2 separate regions of the Homo sapiens genome follow, and region 1 is linked to region 2. The links come from fine-mapping of genetic effects on gene expression. A gene starts in region 2. The other region holds a variant in brackets. All regions are shown on one strand. Distances are between the middles of the regions.

Region 1 (5,520 bases), 27 kb before region 2:
TGCACTGGTGATTCTTGAAATAAAGTCTAGAACTGGCAGAGGATGGGACCCGTCAATTTAAAAAGCACTGCTTCTCCAGAACACCCTCAGAGGGGAAGCGAGGCAAACCTGGAACTAGAGCACCCAAGGTGCCACAGGGCACTGTACCCAAGGGAGACAGGGACCACCCCTGGGGCAGGGCGTTAAAACACAGGTGAAGGAAGCACACCTTCAAAGCAGCTGATGACTCTGAAATCCTGAGAAACACCCCTGCTCTCTGAACTACACAAGGGACTCTGCAACTTCTTGGATGCCATACAGAGGAACCATGGGAATGAAGCTTTCTGGTGGTACAGCCTCAGTAGTGCAGGCAAAGCTGCCTCTTGCTTTTTTTTTTTTTCTTTCCTACTAGAGCAAACCATTCAGAAAATGAGTACCAAAGGCATTCATTATGTACCAAATATGGAAGAAAGTACTAATATACATTGTGCCTCTGTGGACATCACACTATGATCAGTTAAAAATAGGCACTTGGCTTAAAACTTTAAGAATTTCCCACTGCAAAAGGTATCAGCTCTTTAATTTTTTTTGAAACAGTCTTCCTCTGTCTCCCAGGCTGGAGTGCAGCGGCGTGATCTCAGCTTACTGCAATCTCCATCTCCTGGGTTCAAGTTATTCTCGTGTCTCAGCCTCCTGAGTAGTTGGGGTTATGGGCACATGACATCACGCTCGGCTTTTTTTTTTTTTTTTTTAGATGGAGTCTCGCTGTTGCCCAGGCTGGAATGCAATGGTACGATCTTGGCTCACTGCAACCTCCACCTTCTGGGTTCAAGCGATTTTCCTGCCTCAACCTCCCGAGTAGCTGGGATTACAGGCGCCCACCACCACGTCTGGCTAATTTTTTGTATTTTTGGTAGGCATGAGGTTTCGCCATGTTGGCCAGGCTGGTCTCGATCTGCCCCGCTTCGGCCTCCCAAACTGCTGGGATTACAGGCATGAGCCACCAGGCCAGCCTACAGCCCTTTTTTTTTTTTAGACGGAGTCTTACTCTGCCACTCAGGAGTGCAGTGGCGGGATCTCGGCTCACTGCAACCTCTGCCTCCCAGGTTTAAGCTATTCTCCTGCCTCAGCTTCCTGTGTAGCTGGGATTACAGGTGTGCACCACCACGCCTGGCTAATTTTTGTATTTTTAGTAGAGATGGGATTTCACCACATTGGCCAGGCTGGTCTTGAACTCCTGACCTCAAGTGATCTGTCCACCCCAGCCTCCCTAAGTGCTTGGATTACAGGTGTGAGCCACTGCGCCTGGCTCAGAGCCCTTTCCTTTCATACTTGCACCACTTAAAAAAAAAATATTTAGTGATGCATCTGAATTCCTAAAAATGTTTTAAAATGTGCCCATTTTTTCAAAAGCAGTCTTCTAGAATCAAAGGTGAAAAGGAAGGGGCTTCAAATGACATAGGGAGGTCACCAGAAGACACATGGTTAAGGTCTATCAGGAGATGACACACCATGCATTACCCAGTAAATCCATACCACACTGCCCAGGCTCTGGCCTGAAGTCTCAGTCATATCAGGGTCCCACAGGTGACAAGACTTGGGAAGACAGATTCACTCTAATTCATTCAAAAGAGCTGGCAGCATATAAACAAGGATAGCAACCTACTAACAATGACAGTGAAAGATGTCACTCTCAAGGCACAAGATGCTTGAGTTGGCTTGGCTGAGCATTCTCTTCCTGGAGGCAAACTTCATATATACTGAATGATAACATCTCAAAAGGGGGAAAAAAATCCAAGAGTGATTTCCTGTGAGTGACTAAGCCAATCTCCTTTTTTAAGACAGAGACTCACTCTGTCACCCAGGCCGGAGTACAGTGGCATGATCTTAGCTGACTGCAGTCTGGAACTCTTGGGCTCGAGGGAGCCTCCTGCCCCGGCCTCCTGAGTAGCTGGAACTACAGGCTTGCACCACTAAGCACAGCCAATTTTTTATTTTTTATTATGTTTTTGTTGTTGTTGAGATGGGGCCTTGCTATGTTGCTTGGGCTGGTCTCGAACTCCTGGGCTCAAGCAATCCAGTCTCCTTAAAATCACTCTACACCTCTGCTCTAATCCACCATGGGCTCAGTGCCATGATGGGAACCTTACCCAAGCGCTTGGGTTCCTTTATGGTGAAAAAGGGACTTCTTGCTATTGCCCCCATGGATTATCCACAAATAAGATGACATCTTTAATCTTTACATTGAGAATTAAGTGATCAATATCTTCACAGAAATTATAAATCTGATTATTGAAATTAAGCAAATCACTTCAATGTGCATTCTAACTCTATTCAGAAGAAAAAAACCTGGCTTTCATTGATAGTGATAAATATTCCAGATTATTCATTTCATTCTGAATTTTTGTAATTTAGTTATGGTAGGCAAA[C/G]AAAACATACTTGCCTTAGCCTGGTAACAATCAGAAGCCTGTACAGACGAGGTGGTCACCATCTTAGTTACCTATGTGCCAAAATATAAATTGAATGCTAAACTGGCTTTATAAATTATATATATATATATATTTTTTTTTTTTTTTTTTGAGACAGAGTTTCACTCTTGTTGCCCACGGTGGAGTACAATGGTGCGATCTTGGCTTGCCACAACCTCTGCCTCATGGGTTCAAGTAATTCTCTTGCCTCAGCCTTCCGAGTAGCTGGGATTACAGGCATGCACCACCACACTTGGCTAATTTTTGTTATTTTTAGTACAGACAGGGTTTCTCCATGTTGGTCAGGCTGGTCTCGAACTTCTGACCTCAGGTGATCTGCCCATCTTGGCCTTCCAATGTGCTGGGATTACAGGTGTGAGCCACCGCGCCTGGTCAAATAATTTTTTAAATAACTGAATAACCCCAGTATGTCCCTGTGGATTCCACGGCGAGCGAGTCTTGATCAGTAATGGGCAAAAATTGAACTAGTGAGTAATCCTATTCCGTGAGTAGCTACATGATTAACAACAATAGTCCAAAAACAAAAGAACAAAAATTGTATATAATAGTAGCATACAACCAAATATGTATTTCTTAGTTTTCAAATGAAAAGAAATTCTAACTTCCATTATTTAGCCTTTGATGATCTAAGGAGGAAAGGTTCATTAGAAATAAAGATCACAGAACTATTTGTTGGAGACAGAAGGGATCTTAGAAATTATTTCATGCACAGCAGGAAATTTCATAACCGAAAAAAGAGAAAAACTGGGGCCGAGCGCGGTGGCTCACACCTGTAATCCCAGCACTTTGGGATGCTGAGGCAGGCAGATCACTTGAAGTCAGAAGTTCGAGATCAGCCTGGCCAACATGGCGAAACTCTGTCTCTACTAAAAATACAAAACATATTAGCCAGGTGTGGCGGTGCACGCCTGTAATCCCAACTACTTGGGAGGCTGAGGCAGGCTAATCGCTTGAACCCAGGAGGCAGAGATTGGAGTGAGCCGAGACTGCGCCACTGCACTCCAGCCTGGGCAACAGAGCAAGACTCCGTCTCAAAAAAAAAAAAAAGAAAAAGAAAAAAGAAAAGATATAAGTTGAAGTTAAAAAAAAAGGCAAAAAGGTACAAGTTCTCTTTTCAAGGTGAGAGCTGTCAAGTAACTCAAACCCAGAGCTTTTTCTCAGCACCATGTGGCCTCCCCCTTTGTGGGTAAATAGTTATGAAATGCCAGCTTAGGAAACAGAAATAGCAAGCTGCCAAAGAAAAGTAAGAGTTAACATAATTACTTCAAAGAAATAAACACACACATCTCCCCCTAAAAACAAAAAACAGGCTAGGCACGGTGGCTCATGCCTGTAATCCCAGCACTTCGGGAGGCCGAGGCAGGCGGATCATGAGGTCAGGAGATCGAGGCCATCCTGGCTAACACAGTGAAACCCCGTCTCTACTAAAAAACACACAAAAAATTAGCCGGGTGTGATGGCTGGTGCCTGTAGTCCCAGCTACTCAGGAGGCTGAGGCAGGAGAATGGCGTGAACCTGGGAGGCGGAGCTTGCAGTGAGCCGAGTTCGCACCACTGCACTCCAGCCTGGGCAACAGAGCAAGACTCCGTCTCAAAAAAAAAAAAAAAGAAAAGAAACAAAAATTAAGGTACAGAAATATGTTAAGTTTCAAAGAAAAAAAATGCTATAAATCTTTTGTTGAATTAGATATAGATGTATGCTTCAGATTATTTTAGGAAACTATCCCAATGTTTCAAAATTATATATATATTCTGAGATGGAGTCTCACTCTGTCGCCCAGGCTGGAGTGCAGTAGTGCCATTTTGGCTCACTGCAGCCTCCATCTCCTGAGTAGCTGGGACTACAGGTGCTCGCCACCACACCCAGCTAATTTTTTTTTTTTTTTTTTGGATTTTTAGTAGACAGGGTTTCACCATGTTGGCCAGGCTGGTGTCAAACTCCTGACCTCAAGTGATCTGTCTGCCTCAGCCTCCCAAAGTGCTGGGATTACAGGCGTGAGCCACCATGCCCAGGCAGTATTTTTAGCTTCCAAAGAAATCCCATAATGAAGTAAGTATGGAGACTGGTAAAAAGAAAACACCAACAATCTCACCATCACAGAACCCTAAATGTCACTAGTGTTTTTCTTTCCATTTCCTGTCCTAGGCACTGACTTCAGCTAACCAATGGTCAATAATTTATTCTTGCATCCCTCTTAATTATTGAGGCTTTTTTGGGACAGGATCTTGCTCTGTTGCCCAGGCTGGAGTGGAATGGCATGATCATGGCTTGCTGCAGCCTCAACAGCAAGGGCTCAAGTGATCTTCCTGCTCAGCCTCCAGAGTAGCTGGGACTACAGGCAAGTGCACCACTGCACCTGGCTAATTTAGTATTTTTTGTAGAGATGAGGTTTCACCATGTTGCCAAGGCTGGTCTTGACCTCCTGGGCTCAAGGGATCCTCCCACCTCAGCCGCCCGAAGTGTTGGAATTAGAGGTGTGAGCCATAGCACCCGGCCTATTGAGGCTTTGTATGTCTCTGTCTTTTCTCATATTATAATAGTCAGGATTTCTAAAAACGGTATTAAATCATAATGGTGAAAGCTGGTATTTTGTTACAATTGTAATCAGCATGCTTCTTGTGTTTCTTGTGTTTTGAATTTAAGGTAGCTCCTGGGAGGACGTGGACAGCTTTATCATTTAAAGCAGGGCTAGTAAACTGGCCCTCTGGCTAATCCCACCCTCTGCTGATGGGCATTTAGGTTGTTTCTACTTGTTGGCTATTATAAAACATGCTGCTATGGTCACTTAAGTGTTTACATGGATGTTTGCTTTCTAACTTGCATTATTTAGCCTTTGATGATCCAAGGAGGAAAGATTCTTGTATAAGAAACACTTATACACATATATATAAGTGTTTATATGGATGGTATCTTTTGGGTAGACACCCAGGAATGAAATTGCTGGGTCATATGTAATTTTTTTTTTCTTTTTTTTGAGATGGAGTCTTGCTCTGTCACCCAGGCTGGAGTGCAGAGGCGTGACCTTGGCTCACTGCAACCTCCACCTCCTGGG
Region 2 (5,000 bases):
ATGTCCAGGAAGCGGCTGGGAATTCCAAGCTTGCTGCTGAGCAGCACTAAGTGAAATACGCTGGCTAATGTACAGGCAGGGATGAGGCTCCCGGGAGGACGCCCTTCTCCCTTGCTGAAACTGATTCAGCAAATCCTGTTTTCTTCTGTCATTTTACCTAACACTTTGGCAGCGGATGGCACTCCCTCCCTCCTCCTGGCCACTGCCACATAACAATGAGCTTGCCAGCTCCCCCTCCTACATTCAGCCTATATACGCTGCACATCCCAGGACTTGCTTTGCAGCCCCTTCTCTCTCCACACTCTCGCCTCAAGCAATCTCACACATTCCTATATTTTTTTGTTTGTTTTATTTTGGAGACAGGGTCTGGCTCTGTCACCTAGGCTGGAACGCAGTGGCATGATCTCGGCTCACTGCAACCTCCACCTCCCAGGTTCAAGCCATACTCCCACCTCAGCCTACCAAGTAGCTGGGACTACAGGCGTGTGCCACCATGCCGGGCTAATTTTTGTATTTTTTGTAGAGATGTGTTTTGTCATGTTGCCTGGGATGGTCTCGAACTCCTGAGCTCAAGCGATCAGCCCAGCTCGGCCTCCCAAAGTGCTGGGATTACAGCCTGAGCCACTGCACCCGGCTTCCTATGGTTTAAAAAAAGTTTCATTATACAAATTTTTATTTATGTACTTATTTATTATTAGGGACAGAGTTCCACTATGTTGCCCAGGCTGGTCTCAAACTCCTGGGCTCAAGCAATCCTCCTGCCGCAACCTTCCAAAGTGCAGGGATTACAAGTGTGAGTCACTGCGTCCAGGCTTTATTATGAAAAACGTAAATCAAATACGAAACAGTATAATGAAATCCATGTGTCTATTAACATTTAGCATTCCTATATACTGACAACTCCTAAATGTTACCTGTAGCCCAGACACCTCCTTTGAGGAGTCATACTGCCAACTGTCTGTTTGCGTTTCCACTTGAATAGCACACAGCCTTCACAAACTTTACCAGGTCCTAAACTGCTCTGAATTCTTCTTCCCCAGCCCTCCTGAATTACTGGTAAGCTCCGGATGGCCTTGGACGCCTTATTCACTGATGTCTCTCAACAGTCAACAGTGCCTGGCACGTGGTAGGCACTCACATTTTGGCAGAACAGCTCTCTGCAAACTCTCAACTCTCAGTGCCAGGGTCCACTCAGCTGGCCACTACCCTTAATTCTGCCCCCTCTCCCAAGTCAGACTCATCTTTTTAAAAAGATCAGGCCGCGCCTGGTGATTCACGACTGTAATCCCTGCACTTTGGGAGGCCGCGGCAGGTGGATCACCTGAGGTCAGGAGTTCGAGATCAGCCTGACCAACATGGTGAAACCCCGTCTCTACTAAAAATACAAAAATTAGCCGGGTGTGGTGGTGCATGCCTGTAATCCCAGCTACTTGGGAGGATGAGGCAGGAGAATTACTTGAACCCGGGAGGCGGAGGTTGCAGTGAGACAAGATCGTGCCGTTGCACTTCAGCCGGGGCAACGAGAGCAAAACTCCGTCTCAAAAATATAAATAAATAAACAACAACAATAATAATAATAATAAACCATGTTACTGAAACCTCCCTGGCCCATGGCGAGTTTAACACACAGTTCCTTAGGTAATTTAAACTACCCAAAGCAATGAATACGAGAAAGCAACTCTGGGTAAGTCAGGATAGGCTTTGCTGTTTGAATGTGGAAAACAGCACATGCAAATATCAAGGTGATGAATTTGGACAACCAAACGTCCAATCCACTGAAGTTAGAAAAAAAAAAAAGTTTAAACAAGAGCCCCACGCCTGAACTTAGTGCTGATAACTCTAAGTACTTTTAGATCCACGGCCGGCTTTAAATTTCAACTCCAAGACGTTAAGTGATTTGACCTCCTCCAAGCTCTAACTTCCCCTACGCTCCGCGGAGAGCTGGCCCGGGACAATGCTTTACTCTTTTATTCCCTACTCCCGGCACCTCAGAGACCAGGGTCACCAACGTCCTCGGCAGACGCAGCCACTCAGGCTTGGAACAGCCTCCGGCGAGGACCCAGCAGACGGCGTCCGGGGCCTGCGGCCTCAGGCGCGCGCTGTCCCTGTCCCTGGCCACGGGTCGCGCCGGTCAGGGCCCTGCAGGCCGGGCCAGCGCCGCGGGGAGGATGTGGCCTCCGGGCCAAGCCTCGGGGGCCTTCCCGGGCGAGGGTGGAGCCGCAGAGCGGCCCGTCCCCTCCGTGACCTTGAGCCCGAGGACGCCCCGACCCCGCCCCAGCTCCGGCCCCACCCCAGCTCCGGCCCCACTGCCCCGAGGCCGGGCAGCCACCCGCGCTGGGGACAGGGCCGGGGCGGAGACCGGCGCCGGGAAACCCGCGCCCTCCGCCTCGCGGCGGCCCCTCCCCGGCACCTCCCGGGAAGGGCGGCGCTGCTCACCGGAGCCTGGGCAGGAGGCTGCAGGGGGCCGCCCGCTGCAGGAGGCCGCCGGCCCAGGCCGCTCCGCGGGCGCGCAGCACTCGCGCCGCCATCTTGCTCGGCGCCTCGGCTCCCACCGCCCGGGCGCCGCCGCTGACGCCGCCGCCGCGCGACCCCTCCCCCGGCCGGGCCCCAACGCGGCCACTGCAGTGCGGGGCGCGGCCGCCAGGGGGAGCAGGGCGCGCGGCCGCGGGGGTCGGCGGGGCGTCCAGGCGCCAAGGCCCGGCCGCTGCGGGAAAGCGCGAAGCCCAAGCGCAGTCAGTGCAAGCCGATCACTTCAGCGGGAGGAGCTCGGTGCCCAGAAGCGCGGGTGCAGAAGGGACAAGGGCATAACTTCAATGATCAGGGAAAACTCCAAAAGGAAAGAGTAACACTGTGCCTAGGGGAATCCAGGGCCTGGGGCGGGGCAGTGGCAGTGGGTTTACCCCCACCCCACCCCGCCAATGTCTTTTAAATTTTGTAGTATATGAATATATTGTCATTTCAAAAAGCCCCACAACGCTTTAACAAGTGCATTCTGGGGCCGGACGCAATAGCTCACGCCTGTCATCCCAGCACTTTGGGAGGCTGAGGCCGGAGATCTCTTGAGGCCAGGAGTTCGAGACCAACCTGGGCAACATAGCGAGCCCTCACTGTGCAAAAACATTTTTAAATTAGCCGGGCATGGAGGAGCACGTCTGTGATGCCAGCTACACTGGAGACTGAGGCAGAAGGATCGCTTGAGTTCAGGAGGTGGAGGCTGTAGTGAACTATGATCGTGCCACTGCACTCCAGCCTGGGCAAACACACGACGTCCTGTAGCGAAAGAAAGAAAGAGAGAAAGAGAGAGAAAGAAAGGGAGGGAAAGGAAGGAAGGAAGGAGAAAGAAAGGAGGAAGGAAGGGAGGCAGGAGAAAGAAAGGAGGGAAGGAAGGAGAAAGAAAGGAAGGGAGGGAGGCAGGAGAAAGAAAGAAAGAGAGAAAGGAAAAGAAAAGAAAGCAAGTGAGGAAAAAATTAAAAAACACCATACACACACAAAAAAAATTAAGGAGAAAGGACTGGGAAGGTTCTCTTGAGGTCTTGGGACTGCATCGTTCCCATTCATTTCAGCACCGGTGGGCACTGGCCATGGGGAGTCCTTGGTACCTTACCCTCAAGGCCGTCTGGGTCTAGTGGGGACAGAATGTACAATGATGATTGGACCGAGTGTGTTAAGTGTCAAAATGGACAGGTTCATGAGACACGAAAGAGGCACGGAAAGAGAGCATGTAACCGGGGGTGGCTGTGAATTAGAGGATAGATGGGGAGAAAGTTCTCCAAGGAGCTGGCAGGACATATCAGTCCCAGGGGAAGAAGGGAGGGCATCCCTGTCTTGAGGAAATAACTTAAGCAAAGGCGTGGATCTGGGTGGCTGGCGCTATAGAGGGAAAAATGTGTCCTCCAGGAAGATTTTTTAAAAAGCCACAAATGAGCCAGGCACGGTGGCTCACGTCTGTAATCCCAGCACTTCGGGTGGCCGAGGCGGGCGGATCACCTGAGGTCAGGAGTCCGAGACCAGCCTGGCCAATATGGTGAAATCCCATCTCTACAAAAATACAAAAATTAGGCAGGCATGTTGTCGGGTGCCTGTAATCCCAGCTACTCGAGAGGCTGAAGTGGGAGAATTGCTTGAACCTGGGAGGTGGAGGGTGCAGTGAGCCGAGATTGTGCCTCTGCACTCCAGCCTGGGCAACAGAGTGAGACTCCATCTCAAAAAAAAAAAGAAAAGAAAAAGAAAAAAGCCACAAATATAACCATGAAAACTGCAACCAAGGTGAGGGCAGGAGGAAGGAAGCTGGACCCTGGGGGTGGGGGAGAACCTGGGAGAAGTAGGGGCTCTGGCCACCAAAGGGAGCATTTCCAGGCCAGTGCGGGGCTGCAGAGGCAGAGAGGAAAGTGCCCTCAGGACTGGGTTGCTTGGAGGTCATAAGGTGGACAAAAACTGGGAGGTTCCCTGAAGCTGGTAATCTTGGGGGCCAAGGGAGCATCAGGGCTCAAGGGGTGCAGTTTTCTGACTGGGGTAGAATTTGAACACGTTAATATGGCAAGGAGCCACCAGGGAGGACAGAGGTGGACCCTGTGGATGGAGGAGGGCTTTGCCCCAGAGCAGGGAAAGGCACCTGTCCCTTGGAGGCCAGTGGGATGGAGGCCAAGGGACACAAGGATAGGAGGCCAGAGGCTGTGTGGCTGAGGACCTCCTGGCCTCAACTAGTGTATGCTTAGTAAAGCTGTGGAGAACCCTGTAAGAAGTACTTTTTAAGTGGTCCATTTTCAGAAAACAGACAAGTCTGGGCAGTTCCCTTGTGGATGTGACAAGATGCACGGGTACAGACATCTGGGAAGAGTGATAAAACTCACAGAAGTCAGAGGGGAGGGAGAAAAGTGGCAGGGGTGTCTAATCCATAAAAGGAAAGAAAGCTTAGCCATTGGGAAATCGAAACTTCAAGTAGGGAAGAGGACAAGATGTAACCTAATAAGGGGATAATGGAACTTAGGTGATGTCCAGGA

Evidence for each region. PIP is the estimated chance that this variant, and not a neighbour inherited with it, causes the effect.
Region 1: its variant is the best candidate, but not a certain one, in a credible set for the expression of NIPSNAP2 in whole blood (INTERVAL, PIP 0.68).

What each region holds. Positions count from the first base shown.
Region 1 is chr7:55,988,787-55,994,306 of GRCh38, reverse strand. The region is part of intron 7 of NIPSNAP2 (nipsnap homolog 2); the gene reads right to left. Among named protein-coding and RNA genes, the nearest start is that of NIPSNAP2, 27 kb to the right of the region's middle. RefSeq lists a silencer at 1,584-1,784. The variant C/G (reference allele first, on the strand shown) is at 2,409.
Region 2 is chr7:55,962,138-55,967,137 of GRCh38, reverse strand. It overlaps NIPSNAP2 (nipsnap homolog 2), which reads right to left and starts at 2,553. Exons shown (of 10, transcript NM_001483.3): 1 at 2,437-2,553. The coding sequence starts at 2,528. RefSeq lists enhancers at 1,511-2,244, 2,814-2,893 and silencers at 2,014-2,493, 2,554-2,663.